Regions from separate parts of the Homo sapiens genome. Here regions 2, 3 and 4 are each linked to region 1. Evidence: fine-mapped expression QTL. A gene starts in region 1. Each other region holds a variant in brackets. All regions are shown on one strand. Distances are between the middles of the regions.

Region 1 (5,142 bases):
TTGCAGCCTGTGGATCCCTGGCCTCCCGCCTGAGTTGGGGGTGGGGGTGGAGGCATAAGTCTGAAAAAAAAGTGGGTAATAGTCAGCAGTTCCCTAAAGTAGAATTACTACCCACCCTCTGCCATGGACCCCAGCATAAAGCTTTTTGTGGGGCGTGCATGACCTGACTCTGTACTGGCGTTAGGCTTCAGGAGATCTGTGGAATAGAGTTTGACTTCATGGATCCTAACCCTCTGAGACCTGCTGCTGACTCCCAGGGAGCAGGTCCTCCCTCACAGTCTGTGCCTCAGCTTCCCCAGAAAAGGTAGATGGAGGTGAGTTAAATGCTTGGAGATCCTACACCTGGGCTTTTGCTTCCTTTTTCCTTGCACGGTCAGTGCCCAACACAGTGCCTGACATTCACACTGAGGCCCAGCATACCTATCTTTAAGCAGTTTGGAAGTGATCTTCTGGGGGTGATGGGCGTCTTAAAACGGTTTCCATAGCAAGCACCTTACTTTTACTCACATGGGATGTTTGTTTGGAGGGGGGCATTAAAAGGACTGCTGGCAAGGAGGAGAGAGACTAAACGCCTCCCCAAGGGAGCCATTTCTTGGCATAGTAGTTAAGGGAGACCACTTCTCAGCATTCGGAAGGAACTGGTTGGGAGCAGGTGTCCACGATGTCTGGGGAGGGGTCACTTCGTGTGGTCTTGGATATCAGGAGTGGCAGAGAGGCAACACATTCCAGATGAGCTCTGCCCTTTGACACCTCCCCCCACCCCACCCCGGCTGGGTCAAGGCCCCAAGGCCACATATAGAAGGCGTGGAAGGTGGGCACCAGCTGCTGCTGCCAGGAGATCCATGCTCCATAAGCCCTCGCGCCAGCCTCGGAGACAGCCAGGCTGCGCAGAGCAGAGGAGAGGAAGCAGCGAGGTGGGAGACAGTTTCGCTTCTCCCACCGAGGCCGCGCCTGTGGCTGCAGGCGCCCGGATCGCCACAGTTAACTCCCTGTTATCTGGGCCCCAATCGATCTCAGGCTGTAACGTTTAACCCTAGGCTGACTTCCCCAACCGCCCTCCCCCTCTCCCTCCCCTGCTTGGGTCTGGGGACTGCGTTTTCTTCGCCTCGCAGAGGAAGGTCGGCCTTGCACAAATCCGCCCCCACGAATCCCAAAGAATTGGAGAAAACTTCCACTTTGGGATTATATGCAGTTGGGATTATATGAGCCCGGGGCTTGCACCATGGGTACGTGAGGTGAAGACATCTGCAGCAGCAGGATTAATTAGCCTAAGATGGGCATATGGAGGCCACTGATGGAGTGAAAGCGGGATATGCGGGCCCAACTCTGTCCCCACTGGGCGCCTACTCTGGCAAGGCTGAGTTTTCCTTCTGTCTTTCAATCAGTACCTATTGAGCGCTGCTGTTCCAAGCATTGTTTCGGGTTTTGAGTGCGTAGGCCATGGTCTCAGGGCACCAAATGTACGTAGTCGTTTTAGCCCCGGGACTCAAGAGTTGAGGCTGATGCCTGCCTGAGAGATAAAATATCCTTTCTCGGATCAGTTTCCTCACCTGAGAAATGGGAACGGGAATCTCCGCCCCTTTTCTCCCGGGGCCCTAGTGCCCACTGAATCCATTAAGGAGCTCTTGGAAGGGTGGGGTCTTGGAACACGCGTCTACCTCCCAGGACCCTCGACTAGGAATCTCTGGCCCGCCGCGCACCTGAGCTGGGGGGCGCGGCCAAATTCTCCCTCCCGGTCCTCGAAGCTTCTGGCCCCGCTCTAGAGGGGGCAGAAAGATAGCAGATTTCCCCGGAGGTGCGTCTCTAAACCCAGACCGCCTCACCAAAGCGGGGAGGTCGTCCTTTTTTTTTTTTTTTTGTAAAGTTGCGGGAAATAGGCGAAGACGGGGCGCGCAAGGGAGCTGAGCCTGGGTGGACCGCGTCAGGGCGCGGGGAGCTCGAGGCGCAGCGGCTGCAGCTCCGGCCTCAGAGCCCGCGGCGTCCAAGTGGCCCGAGCTGCGCTGGGAGGGAGGCGGCGGGAGGAGGGAGGGGAGCCGAGGTGGAGGGGGTTGGGGGGAGGAGGGAGCGGCGAGTCCGGTCCGGGTTTTGCCGGCAGCCCCCGGGCAGCGTTCATAGCTCCTGCCCGGGCGGGCGCGCGGCGGCGGCGGCAGAGGCGGCTGAGCCTGAGCGGGGATGTAGAGGCGGCGGCAGCAGAGGCGGCACTGGCGGCAAGAGCAGACGCCCGAGCCGAGCGAGAAGAGCGGCAGAGCCTTATCCCCTGAAGCCGGGCCCCGCGTCCCAGCCCTGCCCAGCCCGCGCCCAGCCATGCGCGCCGCCTGCTGAGTCCGGGCGCCGCACGCTGAGCCCTCCGCCCGCGAGCCGCGCTCAGCTCGGGGGTGATTAGTTGCTTTTTGTTGTTTTTTAATTTGGGCCGCGGGGAGGGGGAGGAGGGGCAGGTGCTGCAGGCTCCCCCCCCTCCCCGCCTCGGGCCAGCCGCGGCGGCGCGACTCGGGCTCCGGACCCGGGCACTGCTGGCGGCTGGAGCGGAGCGCACCGCGGCGGTGGTGCCCAGAGCGGAGCGCAGCTCCCTGCCCCGCCCCTCCCCCTCGGCCTCGCGGCGACGGCGGCGGTGGCGGCTTGGACGACTCGGAGAGCCGGTAGGTGTCGGGCCACGGCCCTCCCTCGACCCCCCCCGGAGGCCGGCCCCCTCCCCTTCCCCGCCTACCTCCCTCTCCTCCCCCGGGGTTCGGTGCGCGGCCGGGGCCGGAGTTCGCTGCAAGTCGGCGGAAAGTTTGGCTGCGCGGGTTCCCCCGAAGTTCAGGTGCGGAGAGCCGGGGACGGGGAAGGAGGGGTCCGTATTTGGGAGGGGCGGGGGGCGCCCGCACCGTAAGCCGCGGAGCCCCGGAGCCTGGGAGACCTAGCGCCGGTGATCGCTTGGTGGCCGCTGCTATACCCAAGCCTCCCTAAGCCGCAGTATGCTCGGTCGCAGATCACTGAGTTCAGACAAAAAGAGGGGTTTTAGGGTCTGGGACGGCGGCTTGGGCGCCGTGGAGTGGGGCTGGGACGCTCCTTGCGGGGTGCCGCCCCCCTCCCCCCCACTACTCCAGTTCGCGGGCGCTGGGGCAGCGGGCGCCCGGGGTCCTCACCTCTTGGCGTTGGGCGGGCGCTCAGCCTGCGGGGGCGGCTGCTTGTAGATCTCTGGCGCGCACTCCCCCCATCAGACCCCGCTCGCAGCCCTGTGTTGAGGGGCGACGTTAACTGCTCTGGGCGCCCTCGACCACGCGTGGCTGAGCCTCCCCCACCACTTGGAAGAAGCGGCGGCTACTTCTGCATTTTTCCTCCGGCTCCTCGCCCCCGCTGCCCGCGGGGTGCCCGGCGGGCTGATGAAGTTTGACCTTTTTTTTCCATCAAAGTATCTCCCCCACCACCACGGTGCCCCGCGGCCCCTCCCTCCCTCCTTTCCCAGCCTTGGGGAGTCTTTTGAGCTGTCTCCCGAGCCCCGCGTGGGCCACGCAGCGTGCAGAGCCTGGGAGGGAGAATGGGGGTGTTCCTCTAGCTGCGGAACTGTGGGGGGCGTACGTCCCCGGCGCCTGCCACGCTGCACTGGCCCCAAATTTACCCATGAAGTTCGGCCCGACCCCCCTCCCCTTCGCTTCCCCGGAGCGGAGTGAGGGGCTGAACCGCCGCGAGAGGAATGTGTTAATTTTCTGGCTGGGGGAAGTTGTCCTCGCCCGGAATGGGCTGCTTTCCGGCGGGGAGCGCGGGGTGCGCCTGGCTTTGTTTATTTGTAGGATCGACGGAAAGCGAGTGACCCCGGTTTTTAAATGGGGGGCCACCTTCGGGACCTGTCAGAAGAGCTGAAACGCCCAAAGTGGGAGCAAGATCTCTTTTTGTTCTTTTTTCCCCCCCGGGAATCTGAAGGGGTGCGCGGAGTTGGGCTGGTGCCTCGGGCTGCAAGGAAGCACCAGTAAATTTGGGGGGTTCTGTAGTGACTCATTCGGAAAGACCCGCTCCCTGAAGTCTCCCGCGACGGGGGTCTGAAGGTTTGGCAACCGCGCCCTCCTTTGCCCCCTGGACTTTGGGTGGTCTGAGAGTCGCGCCTTCGGATGGGGGGGGAGCTAAGGGGGTGACCAGCGGACCAGACTCCTGACCCCCACCTTTCCTCGCGCGGCGGGCGCTGTTTGGAGCCCTTGGATTTGTGGTGGGCCCTGTCCCCCCCACCCCCGCATTTTCTTTGGAAGCGTTGGGGAGGGGGCGTGTGTGAGATCGCTCGGCCCTCGCCCCCGCCGGAGCCGCCCCAGGGCCGCCGGCAAACAGAGTCCCTTTCAAGTTTTCCGCTGGGGCCGCCTGGCGGGGGCTGCGAGCGCGGTCGCTGCGGACTTGTTTGGAGCGCGATTTGAACGCCCGGCTCCACCTCAGCTGCCCCAGGCCGCGGGGTGGGGGGCGTCTGTCCTTTGCAGTTGGGAGTATTTAAATTAGACGTCTTGGGGGACCTACTGGCCTAAGCTTCACCTGATCCCCCTCCTGAAAGATGCCCGTGCCTTGGTTTCCAACCGCCACTAGAAAACCGGGAACTGAGACCGAAGCCCCCTCTAAACCCCTTTCTGAGAGCCGTGCGGGGAAACTCAGGCCGGCGGGCTACCTACCCGTAACTGCGTATTGTTGATTTAGCAGTTTCCCTAGATGAGAGTCAGGCTGGAGCTTGGGGGGGTGGGGAGTGGCCCGCTCTGCAGCTGTCACCCCCCTCCCAGAACGGAAATTGTCCTCTCCTTGGGGAGGAGGGAGAGGGGGTGATGGTTTGATTTTTGCCCTGGGAAGAGATGGGAACAGCTGAAGGAGATTGGCCTCCGAGTTCCCAGCCAGCCCCCGGAACTTGGGTAGAACCCCCCTACCCCTCATCCTCGCAGTAGCTGGGTCTCTCCCAGGGACGCCCCTAGTCAGCCTTGGCCTCCCTCTCCATGCCACCTCCCTTTCCAAGGTGAGCCTCTGCAGAAGACAGACCCTTGGCTGGCTGGCTGTCGGGTTGGTGCCTTATTTATGTGTGTATCTGGTCCTGGCCGTTTTCCCCGCTCAGCAGGTGACCCTGGCCAGGGCCTCCTATCTCTCCCGCGACAGAGCCTGTTGACTTACCCGAGGGCCAGTGGCCTCGTCTTTATCACGTGA
Region 2 (5,142 bases), 980 kb before region 1:
TGTTCCATAGCCCTTGATTTCAATGTCCTGCTTCCTCCTATTTCTGGGACAGCCTCTTTAGCATTTTCTTTGATTCTGTGAGCCACCCTCATTTCTTTCTAATACGATCATTTTTTGCTTAAGTTAGCTAGAGTTTTTCTGTTGCTGGAAACCAAAGCCTCCTCACCCATACAAATTTCACCTTCTTAGAGGAGCAGAGGGATATGCCCCTGTGGTGGGCTCATATTTGGAGTCTCTGGCAGGGGTTCAAATCTCACCTGGTCCTGGAATGAGAGGAAAGAGAGCCCTGCTGCTAGTGGGTGCTGTCACACCTCGCCTCAGGCCAGTCTTTGTGGCCAGTTTTGCCAGGATCCACTCCCAGCCTAACCTCCAGGTCTCAACACTGAGCCCACAGCCTGAAATAGCTAAGTTTACCCCCATGACTCCCTATCACAAGTGCTACAAATGGCTCAGGCTGGTGTCATGGTTATTTTCCACAAATAGCCATCTCATTCCTGTGCTGTGCCCTTGCTCGTGGTGTTCTGGGACACCTTATCTCAGGGTAAGCTGGGCCCCCCGTGCCCTCTGCCCCGGCCCCTCCCGTGCCTTCAGACCTTAGGCCACATCCTGCCTCTTCTGAACCAACACTTCACTGGGTTCCCTCTGATGTGGGATGGGCAGAGCAAGTGATTTGTGTGGTTGAGCTCTGTTTCCTTTGTAGACTTTAGTCTTTGAGGACTTGACTACAAGCTCCAAGTGCCTTGTTACTTTTCTTGCTTGGACCTCAGTGTCAAGCAGGAGGCTGGGCACACAGTGAATGATCATGTTGATTTCTCCACCCATAGTTTGAAAATTGTTCCCACCCTGTGATTCATATTCTTCATTCATTCATTTACACATTTATCAAGCACCTACTAAGTGTGGGTTCTGCCCTAAGTGCTGGAGGTACACACTGAATAAAACATAGCCGAGGAATTCAGTCTCATGGTGAAGATTTATTGAGAATTAATTGTAGCAGAATGACCTATTGAGGAAATAACCATGTCTAGTTTTTCTCAGCTGCAGGCTCACCTAAAAAGAATGAAAGGCATTTCATCCCTGGGGCGAGGGGCAGGAGAGAACCAGGCTTCATGTCCTTGAAGTGTGGACTTTCTTGACCCCCATGAGGATTGGTGTAGTTCAGAGTAGAAAAGAGAAGCTGCAAGCAGCAGGATACCCAGAAGACAACTTCCAAACAGACGTTTTAAACAAAGATTAGGATTGGAGGCTTAATGCTTCCCAGATTAAAGTGGGATGGTCTCAACTCAGGAGGGTTAGTTGGAACTCTCAAGATCAGAAAGGGAATGAAGGTATGAATTCCATCGATGGCAGAAACCTGCACTCATGAGGATGCATCCTCTGAGATGGGAGGACCTAGGAGGAAGAATATTTGGGTGACCACATGTGTGATAATAATAATAGACAGCATTTAGTGCATACTTACTGTGCGCCAGGAGGCACTGTGTTAAGCATGTTGTACGTATTCACTTATTTCTCACAAGAACCCTGTGAAGTAGGTACTATCATTGTTTCCATTTGACAGATAAGGCAAAGAAAGATTAAGTGAACTTCCTAAGGTTATGGATCCAAGAATCAAACCCAGGCGATCAGATTTCACTGAGGGCCATGTATGCCTATGAGGGCTGAGCACAAAGGGCTATAGTTTTGGGAGCCTTTGTTCTCAAAGGACACCATGACTGAACTTGTCACAGAGGAGGTGGGGCTGCAGCCCCCACCTGCAGATGTGCTTCACAACCAGGCCGGGCATACATATTAGCTGTGGCAACTGGCCACAGCCGATGGCCAGTACTGAAGGACATGGTAATCTTGGTAAGAAGGGGCTTGTATCAGTTAACCATAGTCCCAGTAATGAGTGCGGTAGAACAATCACAAAATTTCAGCAGCATACAACAGTGTTTATTTAGTGCATGTGTTTGGGGACCAGCTGGGGTTCATTGCTATAGGCCAGCTTTGGCTGGCATGGGTTGGCACCACTCTATGTGTCCCTCATCCTCCTTTCATGACCAGCAGGCCAGCCAGGGGACATTCATGGAGATGGCAGAAGTACCCCAGCAACAGTCCCAGTGTGCACGCCCATTTTAAACCTCTGCTCATGTCACATCTGCTAAAATACTGCTGCTCATGGCAAGTCACATGGCTGAGCCGAGGCAAGGTATGGAGAAATCCACCCTGCTCACAGTTACTGGGTAAAGAATGTGGATAGATAACCCTATTACCCAGGAGGGGGTGAAGAGATGGAAGCAAAATCTAGCATTCCACAAAACTTAAACTGGATTTAATTTTGATTTCAAGAGAGAATGAAATGCTACGTTATGTTGTGGAGCAGTTCATGCTTGTTATAAAATCTATCTTCGGGGACCACAAATTTTACCATGAGAATATTTAAATTTTAGTTTTTATTTTAGTGAAAATCTTAAAATAACTTTTAGCAAGAACATATTTTGGGTGGTCTAGAACAGCGGTCCCCAACTTTTTTGGCATCAGGGACTGGTTTCGTGGAAGACAATTTTTCCACAGACGGAGGGAGGTTTTAGGATGAAACTGTACTCAGGCATTAGATTCTCATAAGGAGCGCACAACCTAGACCCCTCGCCTGTGCAGTTCACGATAGGGTTCGCGCTCCTATGAGACTCTAAGGCCGGTTGGAGCGTGGCTCACGCCTGTAATCCCAGCACTTTGGGAGGCCGAGGTGGGTGGATCACAAGGTCAGGAGTTCAAGACCAGTCTGACCAACATGGTGAAACCCCCTCTCTGCTAAAAATACAAAAAATTAGCTGGTTGTGGTGGCGGGTGCCTATAATCCCAGCTACTTGGGAGGCTGAGGCAGGAGAGTTGCTTGAACCTGGGAGGTGGAGGTTGCAGTGAGCCGAGATTGCATGCCACTGCACCCCAGCCTGGTCAGCAGAGCAAAACTCCATCTCAAAAAAAAAAAAAAAAAAAAAAAAAAGGAGAAAGAAGAATCGAATGCCACTGTGACCTGACAGGAGGCAGAGCTCAGGCTGTAATGCTTACTTGCCCACCACTCACCTCCTGCTGTGCAGCCCAGTTCCTAACAGGCCAGGGACTGGTACCGGTCCGCAGCCTAGTGGTTAGAGACCCCTGGCCTAGAAGACTATGGTAGTTTGGTAGTTGCCTTACAGTTTTCAGAGCCCCAGTGATCTGCTACAGTGCCAGCATTTAA[C/CTT]TTTTTTTTTTTTTTTTTTTTTTTTGGAGACAGGGTCTCCCAGGCTGGAGTGCAGTGGTATGATCATAGCTCACTGCAGCCTCTAACTCCTGGGCTCAAATGATTCTCCCACCTCAGCCTCCTGAGTAGCTGGGACTATAGGTGCATCACCATGCCCCTCTATTTTCTTTTAAAAAAATTTTTTTTTTTTTTTTTTTTTTTTTTTAGAGACAGTGTCTCTCTGTGTTTCACAGGCTGGTCTCGAACTCCTGGGCTCAAGCAATCCTCCCTCATCAGCCTCCCAAAGTGCTGGGATTACAGGTGTAAGCCACCATGCCCAGCCTAGCATTTAACTTTTCAGTGCAGCTTTCTCAAACCAAGACCTGTATTCTCAGGGAGCCATGCATTTCCAAGGTTGGAAAACTTTGGTGAGAATGATACACAGCAGACAATATATAGAAAAGGCCCAGAGACAGAGGCATTTAAAGGTGAGGGGGCCTAGGACAGCTATGGGGTCTCTGGGCAGGGTTTATGGTGCTCTGCAGAGAAGCACTGGTAGCATTTGAATAGGTCTTGAAGGATGGCAGAGTGGGGTCCTGGGGATCTCCAGGTTCCTTCTTCTCTGAGTGGACATATCAGATACTTGTCTCTAGGGCTTCTGGACCACAGCCTTGTCCTTCACCTCACATCTATGCTACTGGCTATAGCATTTGAAGGAGAGGCTGAGGAGTATAATGGCTGAACTTTCTGGCTTTGGAGCCAAGTCAACCAGGGTTCAAATCTTGACTTCAGGACGGACGTGATGTCTCACCCCTGTAATCCCAGCACTTTGGGAGGCTGAGGCAAGCTGATCTCTTGAGCTCAGGAGTTTTGAGACCAGCCTGGCCAACATGGTGAAACCCCATCTCTACAAAAAATACAAAAAATTAGCTGGGCACGGTGGTGTGTGCCTGTGGTACTTGGGAGGCTGAGGTGGGAGGATCACTTGAGCCTTGGAAGTGGAGGTTGCAGTGAGCCAAGATGATGCCACTGTACTCCAGCCTAGGTGACAGAGCCAGACCCTGTCAAAAAAAAAAAAAAAAATCTTGGCTTTGACATTTACTAGCTCTGAGCCCTTAGGCAGGTTGCTTGATTTCTTGGAGCCCGTTTCCTCATCTGAAGATGGGAATTATAACACTCTCCTGGGGTGTTTTAAGAATTAGAACTTGGCCAGGCACAGTGGCTCACGCCTGTAATCCCGGCACTTTGGGAGGCCAAGGCGGGCAGATCACTTGAGCTCAGGAGTTCGAGACCAGCCTGGGCAACATGGCGAAACCCCATCTCTTCAAAAAATACAAATATTAGTCAGGCATGGTGGGGCGTGCCTGTAGTCCCAGCTACTTGGAAGGCTGAGCCTGGGAGGTGGACGTTGTCATGAGCCACGATCGCGCCGCTGCACTCCAGCCTGGGTGACAGAGGGAGACCCTATCTCAAAAAAAAAAAAAAAAAAAAGATTAGAACTTGCCAGTGAAGCCTGAGATTTTCTTCCTGGAGCATGTTTGACTTCTGATTTCATTTCCTTAATGGTTATAGGATTATCCTGATTCCTGTGTCAAGGTGAGTCAGTTTTGCTAAGTTATGTATTCAACCAATTTGTCTATTTCGAATATACCCTTCAGTTTTATTGGCACAAAATTATTCACAATATCCTCTTATTTTATTTTTAATGCCTGTAACATCCATAGCAATACCTTTCTTTTCATTCCTGACTTTGAATATTTTTGCCTTCTTTCAACTTTTTCTTCATCATTATCACCAGGGATTTATCAATTTTCACACAATTGGCTTGTGGCTAGCTTAGCTGATCCTCTCTGCTGCATGTTAGTTTTCTGTTTCTTCAATTTCTGTTCTCCACTTTGTCATTTCCTTCCCTCTACTTTGAGTTTATTTGCTGTGTCTTTTTT
Region 3 (5,142 bases), 60 kb after region 1:
GGCTCCCAGATCGGGGGTAGTTCCTGCCGCACTGCTCTGCATGTGTGTGTGCGTGCTGCCTAGGTTTCCTGCCCTGACCCACCACACTTCCCCCAGGAAGGGATGGAGGGGAGGGAGGGGCAGAGATGAGGGCAGGAGCCTTCCCATCTCCCTCACCAGCACACTGGAAGTAGACAAGCTTATGTGGAGCCTAAATGGGTCCCCCAAGAACCCTACCCCCTGGTCTGGGTCGGCAGGTGGGTGGGCTTAGGAGCCCAAGAGGGGGAATAGGGTGCCAGCGCCAAGGCCTCTGTACATTTTGATGTTAGGTGAACAGCATGCAAAGCAGATGCAAATATTATGCAAAGTAGAACTTTCTTTTTCTAGTCCACAGCTCTGAGGTTCTCTGAAATGGGCTGAAAGGGGGGCCCAGAACCCAAGGGGAGGTGTGGAGGTGAGGGCAGGTATCATCACTGCTTTGTCAAGAGGTTGCCACACTGAAGTATACCTACTGTGTACCTAGAACCCGGCTGGGCTTGATTCAGCCTCTGTCCTTGAAAATTCAGGCACACAGGGAAGTCAAGGGCAGAAGGGGCAGATCCATCTCTACAGGATGTCGGTTGAAGGCCTTTAAGAAGCATTTGTCCATTAAATGACATATGAGGCCAGATAGCAGAATGGCTAAATTCTCCTGTTCTGGCTTCAGCCAGGCCTGGGTTTGATTTCCAGCCCTACCACTTAATGGCAGATCTTGGGCAAGGCACATCACCTCTGGAAGTTTCTGTTTGTTTACTCATACATTAAGAACAATGATTGTGCTGGGTGCAGTGGCTCATGCCTGCAATTCCAGCACTTTGGGAGGCTGAGGCAGATGGATCACCTGAGGTCAGGAGTTCAAGACCAGCCTGGCCAACATGATGAAACCCCATGTCCACTAAAAATACAAAAAAATTAGCCGGGTATGGTGGCAGGAGCCTGTAATCCCAGCTACTCGGAAGACTGAGGCAGGAGAATCGCTTGAACCTGGGAGGCGGAGGTTGCAGTGAGCTGAAATCACGCCATTGCACTCCAGTCTGGGCAACAAGAGCAAAACTCCATCTCAAAAACAAACAAATAAACAAACAAACAAGAAAAACCAGCTGGGCGCGGTGGCTCATGCCTGTAGCCTGTAATCCCAGCACTTTGGGAGGCTAAGGCGGGCGGATCATGAGGTCAGGAGTTCAAGACCAGCCTGGCCAACATAGTGAAACCCCTCTCTACTAAAAATACAAAAATTACCCAGGCATGGTGGTGCATGCCTGTAATCCCAGCTACTTGGGAGGCTGAGGCAGGAGAATCACTTGAACCTGGGAGGTGGAGGTTGCAGTGAGTCGAGATCACGCCACTGCACTGCAGCCTGGGTGACAGCGCGAGACTCTTTCGGAAAAACAAAAACAAAAAATTGTACCAATCTCATGGGGTGGATGGGGTGGTTGTAAGGACTCGATGACATGTATGTGTGACATTCACGGACCAGAGCAAAGTGCCTGGCCCTGGGTAAAGTTTCCATAAATGGGAGTTGTAATTTAGGCCTCCACCCCGACCCCTCTACCTGCCCTGCTCAGCTCCTTCAGCTCCTAGAGCCTAAAATGCCATAACTAACTGCAATTCAGGAAAGAGTCTAGGCCTCTGCCCGAGGGCAGGGCCTGCATTTGCTTTTGTCTGTCCCCACCACTACCCTGGGCCCTGGAGGGTCACTCAACTGATTGAATGCGTGATAACTGAATGGTCTCAACTCTTCAGGCAGGCAGTGGGGGAGGGCTCACCTTGAGACCTTTGAGCAACTCTTACTGTAACCAGAGGATGGAGAGTTAGGGTCCTGAGATGAGGAGGATCCCAGCAGACGGTTTAGTGAACAAGGACTGGGTCGGTCTCTTCCCAGTGACCTCCACCCCCTCAAACAGCCTTCCAAACAAAGGTGTGTGAGGGGAGCAGTGGTTGATGGGAGGAGGAGCTTCTACCCTTAGCAAATGAAAACAAAGCCAGAGGTCGGGTGGAAAGGCCAGGCTGTGTGTTGAGGACTGTTCTGGTACTAAGAGGCAGGTGTGTGGGGGTGGGTGGAGTAGCAACAACCCCCACAATAACAGCCAACATCTATAGAGCACCTACTCCTCCCAGGCTCAATGCTAAACACTTCCACCTTACATCATACTCAAACCTCACAATGACAATCTGGATTATGATCCCATCCTTTTCTTTTCAAATGCTTGAGGAAATTGATCTAAATGTTTACCCAAGGTCACTCAGCTAGTAAATATCACTACTGGCATTTCAACCCTGGCTTCTTGCTCCATAGCTTTATCCTTAACCTCTTAAGCTGGGCCTCCATGCTCCCAAAGACCGACCTAGGTTCAAATCCGGCC[T/C]GTTTCAGCAAACTTCTATCACTCTACCTCACCCACACATCCAATTCATCTGCCAAAATATCTCTAAGCCAGCAACCTCTCCACCACCATCTTTCCCTCGCTATCCCAACCCCCAGCCCCTCCTCCCAGGTCTCCCTGCTTGATCCTTTCCACTGGTCTACAGGGTGGCCAGGGGGATCTTTAAAAAGTTTAAGTCAGATCTCCCAGCTTAAAACCCACTGAAGGCTGCCATGGCACTTTGCATAAACCCTGGCCCCTCAGGGGGCCTGCAAAGCCCAGCCCTATAGGCATACCCTTTGGGCTTACAAAGGCCTTCCCCTCACCTTCAAGAGGCACGTTCTTTGCAGCCTTGGAGCCTTTGCAGCCTTGGAGCCTCTGTGCCTGCTGTGCCCTCTGCCTGGCATGCTCTGCCCCCTCTCCTTTGCTTGGCTGGCTTTTCCTGGTCTTTCAGGCTCCAGCTCAGATGTCTTCTCCTCAGAGGCCTCCCCTGACGACAATAGCTCATATGGACCCCTCCCTGAAGTCAGTCTCACATGACCTACTTTAATGTCCTCATGGCTCCTCATGCTCTCTGAAGTGATCATGGTCAACTATTTGTTTACTTGAACGTGACTAGAACGCAAGTTCTGGGAGGCTGGGGACAAGACTGTGCTCTCGTGTTCCCATGGTCTAAATAGTGCCTAGCACGTAGTAGGCACTCAGTAAACATCTGAACAATATGTAGTTGGTGTGACCTGGATCAAGAAGTCCCAGCCTCAGCTTCCTTTTTCTGTTGGGCTCTGCCTTCTCTCAGCCTCCCAGGGAGGCTCTGGATGAGATCAGAGATGGCAAAACGCTCCCTCCGGGAGAGGGAGGGCACGGCGCCCGCCCGGGGATGAGGTCAGTGCAGCAGGCACCTCTCCTCAGTGCAGGAGGCAAGCAGAACCGCAAAGATCATCTTGGCCAGACCCATGACCCTGGAATCCCAGACGGGCAGGGCAGGGTAGGGCGCGCGACCTCTTCCCCTGGTGGGAAGGTCCTCCCGGCGGGGCCTCCTCTTCCCCTCCCCGGGGAGGCAGGTGGAGCTGCGTCCTCATCTTTGTTCCCATCTGGAGCGCGTTTGGCGCGGCGTGGCGGGGGCGGGGCTGCGCCCCCGCGGTGCCCGGAGAGACTGGCCCGCCCGCTTATCTGATCTGCGGCTAATTGAAACTCCCTGCTCGCGAAGGTCAGCTCGGTCCCCTGACAGCTGCCGAGCCGAGCCGGGCCGGATGGAAAACCCGGGCTGTGCAGGGCCCGGCGGGGCGCTGAGGGGAGGGGTTGTGGGGGGCTGCCTCTGCGGCAAAGTAGACAAAGGCGGCCCCTCCCTCCCTGTGCGCGCTGCTGGGGGTCGCCAGAGGTAGCGGCCTTCGCCCTCACCCTGCAGGGTGTTCCAGCCGGGGTCACATGGCCTAAGGCTACAGAGGAGGGGGGCGCCCTTAATCCCTACGTGCCCGCCCACCCCGCTCCCACGCCGGGGCCCTGTCTGGGGTCTCTGGGAGAGTCACCCCCAACTTCCTGCCCCCACCCCGCCTCCACGCCCCGGCTCTGAGACTTCCTGCCTCCCCGGCTCCGGGCAGCTCTGGCTGTGGGAAGCTGGCGGGGCGGGGGCGGCCCGATCCCCTCCCTCTGTGCACTCGACGGGGCGCTGGGGGTCCGGGAGGAAGTGTGCACGCTGGGGGGCACGGCTCAGCCCAGAAGCCGCCATCCGGTGGGTCAGGTGCGGCCTCAGCCTAGGAGGGCGGGCGGGCAGGCCTGTTGCTAATGGTGCTGGGACGGGCGTGGGGGGGCGGGGGGATGGTAGCGGGGGAGCCTCTGGGAGCCCCGTTTCCAGGGTTCCGGGTGCGGACGTGGCGAGCTCTGGAGACTGCAACCCCGCCCGCCGCGCCCCAGGCTGGCCCAGTCCCTAAGCAGCCCGCACGCGCCTCCCACTAGCCGCCTGTGCGCCTAGGCTGAGGTGCTGGGGAGCTCCCGAGGCGGAACTCCTAGCCTCCGGGCTAAGCGCGCGCCCCTATTCAAAGTCTTTAGGGCCTTGGCTTTCACAGCCAAGAAGAAATAACTCCAACCACAGATTTTCAGAACCACGTGCCAAACACCATGATAGGCGTTGAACGTATTTTGTATCAATTAGGCCTCACAACAATTCCATTTTGCTGATGAGGAAGCTGAGGCGCAGAGAGGTGGTGACTTGGCCGAAGTCACACAGCTAGTAAGTTATCGAGGCGGGGCTGGGCTCTGACTCCAAAGCCAGCGTTGTTAGCCTCGGGTGGTCGCGTCTTAGCAAGAGCTCTGCAGTTGTGCGCCAATATAGGTCGATTACCCAGGGCATCCACGAATGCAGAGAGCCCCTTGGCGGCGTCTTGCCGCACGTGTTCTTGTCTTGGGGTTGGGCACGTGTTTCGTGGTGCAGTCCCGCGTGTTAGAGCCCGGGGACAGAGGTATAGCCTAGCGCACTGGTGCCCAGGTGCGCCATTCGCGGTTGGGACCTGGCAGAGTCATATGGCTGGGGCCTGAGCCGCGAGCAGGGCGGAGCGGGGGCGGAGAACTCGGAGCTGAGTCCACGCGGGCCGCGGCGCCTGGGAGGCCGCAATCCCGGCGCCTGCAGCCGGCGAGGCGCGGGGTGACGCGCGGGGGCCCAGCTACCGTGACCTCCTCCGCGGTTGCCATGGAGACCGTGCACTATAAATAAAAAAAAAAAAAAAAAAGGAGGAGGAATTTCAAACCCGTTTTCTACGGCGCTTGGCGG
Region 4 (5,142 bases), 28 kb after region 1:
GTAAGAGGGTCAGGGGTGTGGAGTCGGGGATATAGAAATGCTGTCCCTTGTTCTGTCCTTGGCAGTCAGTCTTGGGGTGACTCTAGTGGGGTTGAGGCCATGTCTCACCCCAGGCCACCCTCTGGGTGCTCGCAGTGGCCAGTGTGTGGGGGTATGTGTGTCCATCCATAGCTGGATGTGTGCCCTGTGCTCTCCGCCTGGGGCTGCGTTTCTCCCTGCCTCCAAGACCAGTCTCCCTGGGCTTGAGCAGGGCTTCTTTTTCCCTCTGGAAACTCCCCAGGCTGAATCATGGAAATCAGAGACGGGACACCCTCCCTTCCACCCCATTGCCCAGCTTGGTTCAACCACCATAGCCTGTGGTCTGCTTTGCCCACCATCAGCCTGTCTGCGTATTTTGCCTCACTTGGAGGCAGGCCAAGGAGACCGGCCCACCAAGGTGGGGGGGAGGAGACAAGGGCCGGGATGTCAAGTGCTGCATGGAAGCGTGGAAAGTGGTGCATTGAGCCAGGGTGTGCAGCTCTGCTGGGCCAGTGTTGGGGGTCCTGAAACGCAGCCTCTTCCACGAGCCTCCCTGGGCAGGCAGAATGGCTGCAAGGCTGGTCAGCCAGCAAGGAATGGCGGGGATGGTGCCTTGGTCAAACCCTGCCCTTGGTAGTGGTGATGGTTGCACAACTTTGTTGATTTACTAAAAATCATTAAATTATATGTATACTTTAATGTGGCAGAATTTTATAGTATGTAAACTATACCTCGATAAAACTGTTTTTTAAAAATCCTGCCAGCCAGGCGCAGTGGCTCACGCCTATAATCCCAGCATTTTGGGAGGCCCAGGTGAGAGGATTGCTTGATCCTCATAGGAAGACCTCATCCCTACTAAAAATTAAAATAATAATAATAATAAAAATTCTGCCCTTGGCCTCAAGGCCCTGCACAACTGGGACCCTGACAGCCTCATAGACACACCTCACATCTTCTTCCCCACCTGCTTAGGCTCTCTTTCATGCCTTTGTCCCCTCTCATTGCTTCTCCTTATCCTTAACTCTCAAACTAGCAGTCCCTTCCTCCAGGAAGGCCTCAGATAGCTCATTGTGTCCCCTTCCGGCTCTTGTTTCACGCTGGTTCATGTGACTGTGGGCCCAGCTCCTGTGCACTCCTGGAAGGCAGTGCTGGGGTCTGGGTCTGTGTGCTCTGCTGTCTCTCCGGTATCATAAGGTACAGGGCTGCTGTCGAGGTAGGTGCAGGGAAGATGTGTGCAAAGGAATATCTAGAACATCCAGCTGTGGGCCACCTGTGTACATGTCTGTGTGCAGATGGCACTATGTCATCCCAGGATGTCCCCTCCTTCCCAGTGCTTTCTGGCCCGAGAGTTCAAGATTGAACCCTGCGGGGGGTGAAGTGAGGCTCTTCTAGGGCTGAGGGTTGAATAAGGGCACTGCCACCACCTCCAGTGACCTCACTGCCAGCTGGCATTATGATGTCACTGGCTTAGCATTCCAGGCCCTGGGCATCTCCAAGTGCCCCAGGTGGGGGCACTCTCCTGGGGTCTGTGACAGCTTGCCCCCAACCACGGAGAGGTGACAGGCACGGTAACAATCCTGGGGAGTGAGAGCAGCCTTAGGGGTACCTAGGTCACCTGCCTTGGGCCACTCTGTCAATTGCAAAAGTGGCCACAGAACAGGGTGACTAACACTTGGGCTCTGGGTTCAAGCTCTACCCCTGCTAGGCACCAGCTGTTTGACCTGAGGCTGACAGCTTGAACCTCTCTGAGCCTAAATTTCCTCATGTCTGAAATTGGCAAATAGTTTCTGTCTCCCGGGGTTCTGGGGAGGCATTCAGAAGCTAAGACATGTAAAGCATAAAAGCACAGGGCCTGGGACACAGTAGATACTCAGTAAATGCTGGTTGATAGGATCCGTTGGTTAAGGAAACCAGAGTGGCAACACAGGTGGTGGGGGCTGGCTAGAAGGGGGCAGGCTCCGTGCCTTCTGGGGCTGGCCAGAGCCTTAGGGTAGAGGCACGGGGTGGCCTCCACTGCCAGGAAGGTGGCCCCAGGTATGAGTCTC[C/CCT]CTCCTTCCAGCTCAGCCAGTTAGCTGGAGCCTACAGGAGGCATTGGGCCCTGCAGCCATGCTCTGGGGCCAAGAACCCATTACCCCCCACCTCCTCCTCGGTACTCCCCAGTCCTCCTCCCCAGCCTCCTCCCCACCTCCTCCCAAGTCCTCCTCCCCTGTCTTCTCCCCACCTCCCCCCAAGCCCTCCTCCCCACCTCCTCCACAGTCCTTCTTGCCACCCTCCTCCCCACCTCCTCCACAGTCCTTCTTGCCACCCTCCTCCCCACCCTCCTCCCCAGCCTCCTCCCCCCAAGCCCTCCTCCCCACCTCCTCCCCAGTCCTTCTCCCCACCCTCCTCCCCAGCCCTCCTCCCCAGACTCCTCCCCACCCTCCTCCCCAGGCCTCCTCCGCAGATTCCTCCCCATCTCCTCTCCAGCCTCCTCCCCACCTCCTCCCCAGCCTCCTCCCCACCTCCCCCCAAGCCCTCCTCCCCAGGCTCCTCCCCATCTCCTCCTCAGTCCTTCTCCCCAGTGTCCTCCCCACCCTCGTCCCCAGCCCTCCTCCCCAGACTCCTCCCCATCTCCTCCCCACCTCCTCTTCTCAGGCCTTGGGCTACACAGTGGGTCTGATCTGGTCTCCTCGCCACTTCTCCTCTACCCTTCCCTCTGCCTCCCTCTCCTGTGGGCATGCCCAGCTGCCTTCTGGGATTCCCTCCTTAGGGCTGTTTCCTTGTCTTTTAGACCCTCAAGTCCCTGAGCCTGGACAAGGTGTCCTGGGTCCCTGGGTCTCTGAACCCTGTTACCCCAGACACTGCTTCCCATGACACTGTCTCCACTAACCTTGACCCTCTGCCCCTTCCTCTCCAGCTCCCCTTTTCTCTGATCCTCCCCTCTAGTTCTCTGTCTCATGATTCTGTCCCCACCACCTGTCTCTATTCTGCCCCCGCATGCCCCTCTGCCCCCCAGCTTTCCATGACTCGTCCCCCCTCAGCCCCCCGTGCTCTGTCCCCGCCCGTCAGCCCCTGGTCCCAGCTCCCGGCTGGCCGGCTCCTGCATGGACAAAGGGGTCCTTTGTGGGCTGACCGCGGCTGGCGGGGCGGCGGGGCGCTGGCTCCGCATTGCTGATGAAACGGAGCCCTTTGTTGTCCCTCCTCAGGCGCAGTATTTCTTTTTGGGGGCTGGATGTGTTCCTGGCAGGGCCGATGATGGATGCGCCCGCCGCCGCCCGCCTGCCCGCCAGCTTTCCCTCCCGCTCATTCCCGCTCCGCTTCAACGCAGCCCTGACTCCTCCCCTGCTGCCTGGGCACTGCCAGGCCCTTCCTGGCCTGGAAGGGGATGGCTGTGTGCCCTAGAGTAGAAGACTGGGACCTGGGAGAACGTCCCCTCTATGTCCTCCTCTTCCATGAGTAGGGCAAATGGGGCTTTTGGTCAGGGGTCCACTGGGACCAGGACATCAGTTTTTCCTAAGGTCTGAAGGAGAAGATGAGCCAGGTATCAGGGCCGATTTGGAACAAGCTTGAGGACCAGATGTTCATGTCTGTCTACTCTGGATTTGAAAACAGAGTTGTCCCTGTGAGCCAGTCCCTCCGTGTACCCACCTCCCTTCAACTTCTGTGGCTGAAAAACCATAGTGTTCTGCCTGCAGCACCTGTTTGGTGACATATCACATCCTCTGGTCCCAAGCTCAGTATGTCCCAGGACCTCAGAGGCTGGGGGTGGGTGGGCCCTGAAGAAGGATAGAATAGTGGAAGATCAGAGAAATTCCAAGAGAGGAACAGAACATGAGGTTTGGTCCCCACCAGGAGAGACTCAGGACGGAGACAAAAGCCGAGACACTCAGCCAGAGCGCCAGCCCTGAGCGCAGGCCGGCTGTGTTGGAAGGAGCTGACTTCTAATTGACCTGCCCGCCCCGCACGCAGAGCCAGATCCTGGAGCTGGGAGGAGGGAGGGGGTGAGCAGAGCAGGAACAGCGTTAATGCAGCTATCGATTTCTGCCACCAGCCAGCAGGCCGCAGAGGCGGGGGACGCACACAGGGGCTGGGGCGCAGCCTGCTCCCCTCCCCATCTCTGCAGCCCACAAGACACCTGCCTTCTGCCTTCTCCCCTCACCCAGTATCTGGGCTGCCGGGGTTGTCGTCCAGGGCAGGGCAGATGAGCTTAGTTGGGCAGGAGCTGGATGAGCTGACTTGACGGTTTTTGTCCCTGATCTCACTGACCCTGGTCCCCAACAACTAGCCAGGGTCACTGATTCCTGAAAGGGTCACCAGTCTCTGAGGAGAGGGGCTGAAAAGACCATCCTGGTCTTGGCCGTTATGAGGTGGGAGGGAACACAGCTATCCTTGGACACACATGGTCTTCTTGCTTCAGCTCTGACCTCTGATGCCCCCCAACCCAGCCTGGATTCCCTGCCAGGGCCCCCCGGCTCTGTCCTGGTGGAATCTGCCATCTTGCCCAGCTCTTCCTCCTCACCCATTTCCCTCTGCTAGGAAGGAGCCCTAGGTGGTCTGGTGCCCACTGGGGAGGGACAGGGAGTATCTGACTGTTGATGGCGGCTACTCGCCTCACCCTAGAGACAGAGCTTTTCCTTTCCCCACACCCGGTCCTCTTTGGCCACTCCTTAGTCCTGGGGAAGCCCCCCCTCCCCCCCGCTTGGGGCCTCAGTTTCCCCCTCTGTAAATGCAGAGGGTTGGACTAGATGCTCTCTTGGGACAGGCTTGAGTCCTGTGACTAGGGGGGTTTTGGGGTTGCCTGGGGACAAAGATCCAGTGTGTGCTGCCCTCAAGCCCAGGGCGTGATGGGGCCCGCCAGATGTGCGCCTCCCCCTTGAGCCTCCAGCTGCTCTGGGGCTGGGCCCTGTCCTCCCACCCCTCTCTTGGGGCATGCTAGGCCACAGCAGGCAGACAGGGAAGCAAGGCTGGAGAGCCGGGACTGATGAGGAAACCGCCGCCTTGCTCCATCTGGCCCAGTCCCTTCAGCTGAGGAGGCAGCTCAGACGCCTTAGCCTTGAAACCTGAGTAGAGCAGGCCCTGCCCCGGGATGGGCTGCCTTGGAAATATGGAGGTGGCCAGAGGACAGGCTCCTGCTGGGCTCCATTCCCT

Which allele goes with the higher level. Alleles are on the strand shown, and positions count from the first base shown. SD is a standard deviation of normalised expression in the study named. Not every link is listed here.
As copies of C replace CTT in region 2, the expression in macrophages of the gene that starts at base 2,140 in region 1 goes up (large effect, 1.4 SD a copy in Nedelec 2016).

Evidence for each region. PIP is the estimated chance that this variant, and not a neighbour inherited with it, causes the effect.
Region 2: its variant is fine-mapped to the expression of CXXC5 in macrophages (Nedelec 2016, PIP 0.95).
Region 3: its variant is fine-mapped to the expression of CXXC5 in whole blood (TOPMed, PIP above 0.99).
Region 4: its variant is fine-mapped to the expression of CXXC5 in whole blood (TOPMed, PIP 0.95).

What each region holds. Positions count from the first base shown.
Region 1 is chr5:139,646,210-139,651,351 of GRCh38, forward strand. It overlaps CXXC5 (CXXC finger protein 5), which reads left to right and starts at 2,140. Exons shown (of 3, transcript NM_016463.9): 1 at 2,140-2,636. CXXC5-AS1 (CXXC5 antisense RNA 1) reads right to left here and starts at 3,519. Exons shown (of 2, transcript NR_149086.1): 1 at 3,126-3,519; 2 at 2,790-2,972. RefSeq lists silencers at 2,068-3,197, 3,398-3,567 and an enhancer at 4,360-4,860.
Region 2 is chr5:138,668,141-138,673,282 of GRCh38, forward strand. No RefSeq gene overlaps it. Among named protein-coding and RNA genes, the nearest start is that of CTNNA1, 83 kb to the right of the region's middle. RefSeq lists a silencer at 604-653. The variant C/CTT (reference allele first, on the strand shown) is at 3,221.
Region 3 is chr5:139,705,859-139,711,000 of GRCh38, forward strand. It overlaps LOC124901085 (a long non-coding RNA gene), which reads left to right and starts at 4,044. Exons shown (of 2, transcript XR_007058963.1): 1 at 4,044-4,116. RefSeq lists enhancers at 3,382-4,372, 4,617-4,666 and silencers at 3,857-4,226, 4,947-5,046. The variant T/C (reference allele first, on the strand shown) is at 2,382.
Region 4 is chr5:139,673,953-139,679,094 of GRCh38, forward strand. The region is part of intron 1 of CXXC5 (CXXC finger protein 5); the gene reads left to right. Among named protein-coding and RNA genes, the nearest start is that of CXXC5-AS1, 27 kb to the left of the region's middle. RefSeq lists enhancers at 258-811, 4,822-5,142. The variant C/CCT (reference allele first, on the strand shown) is at 2,064.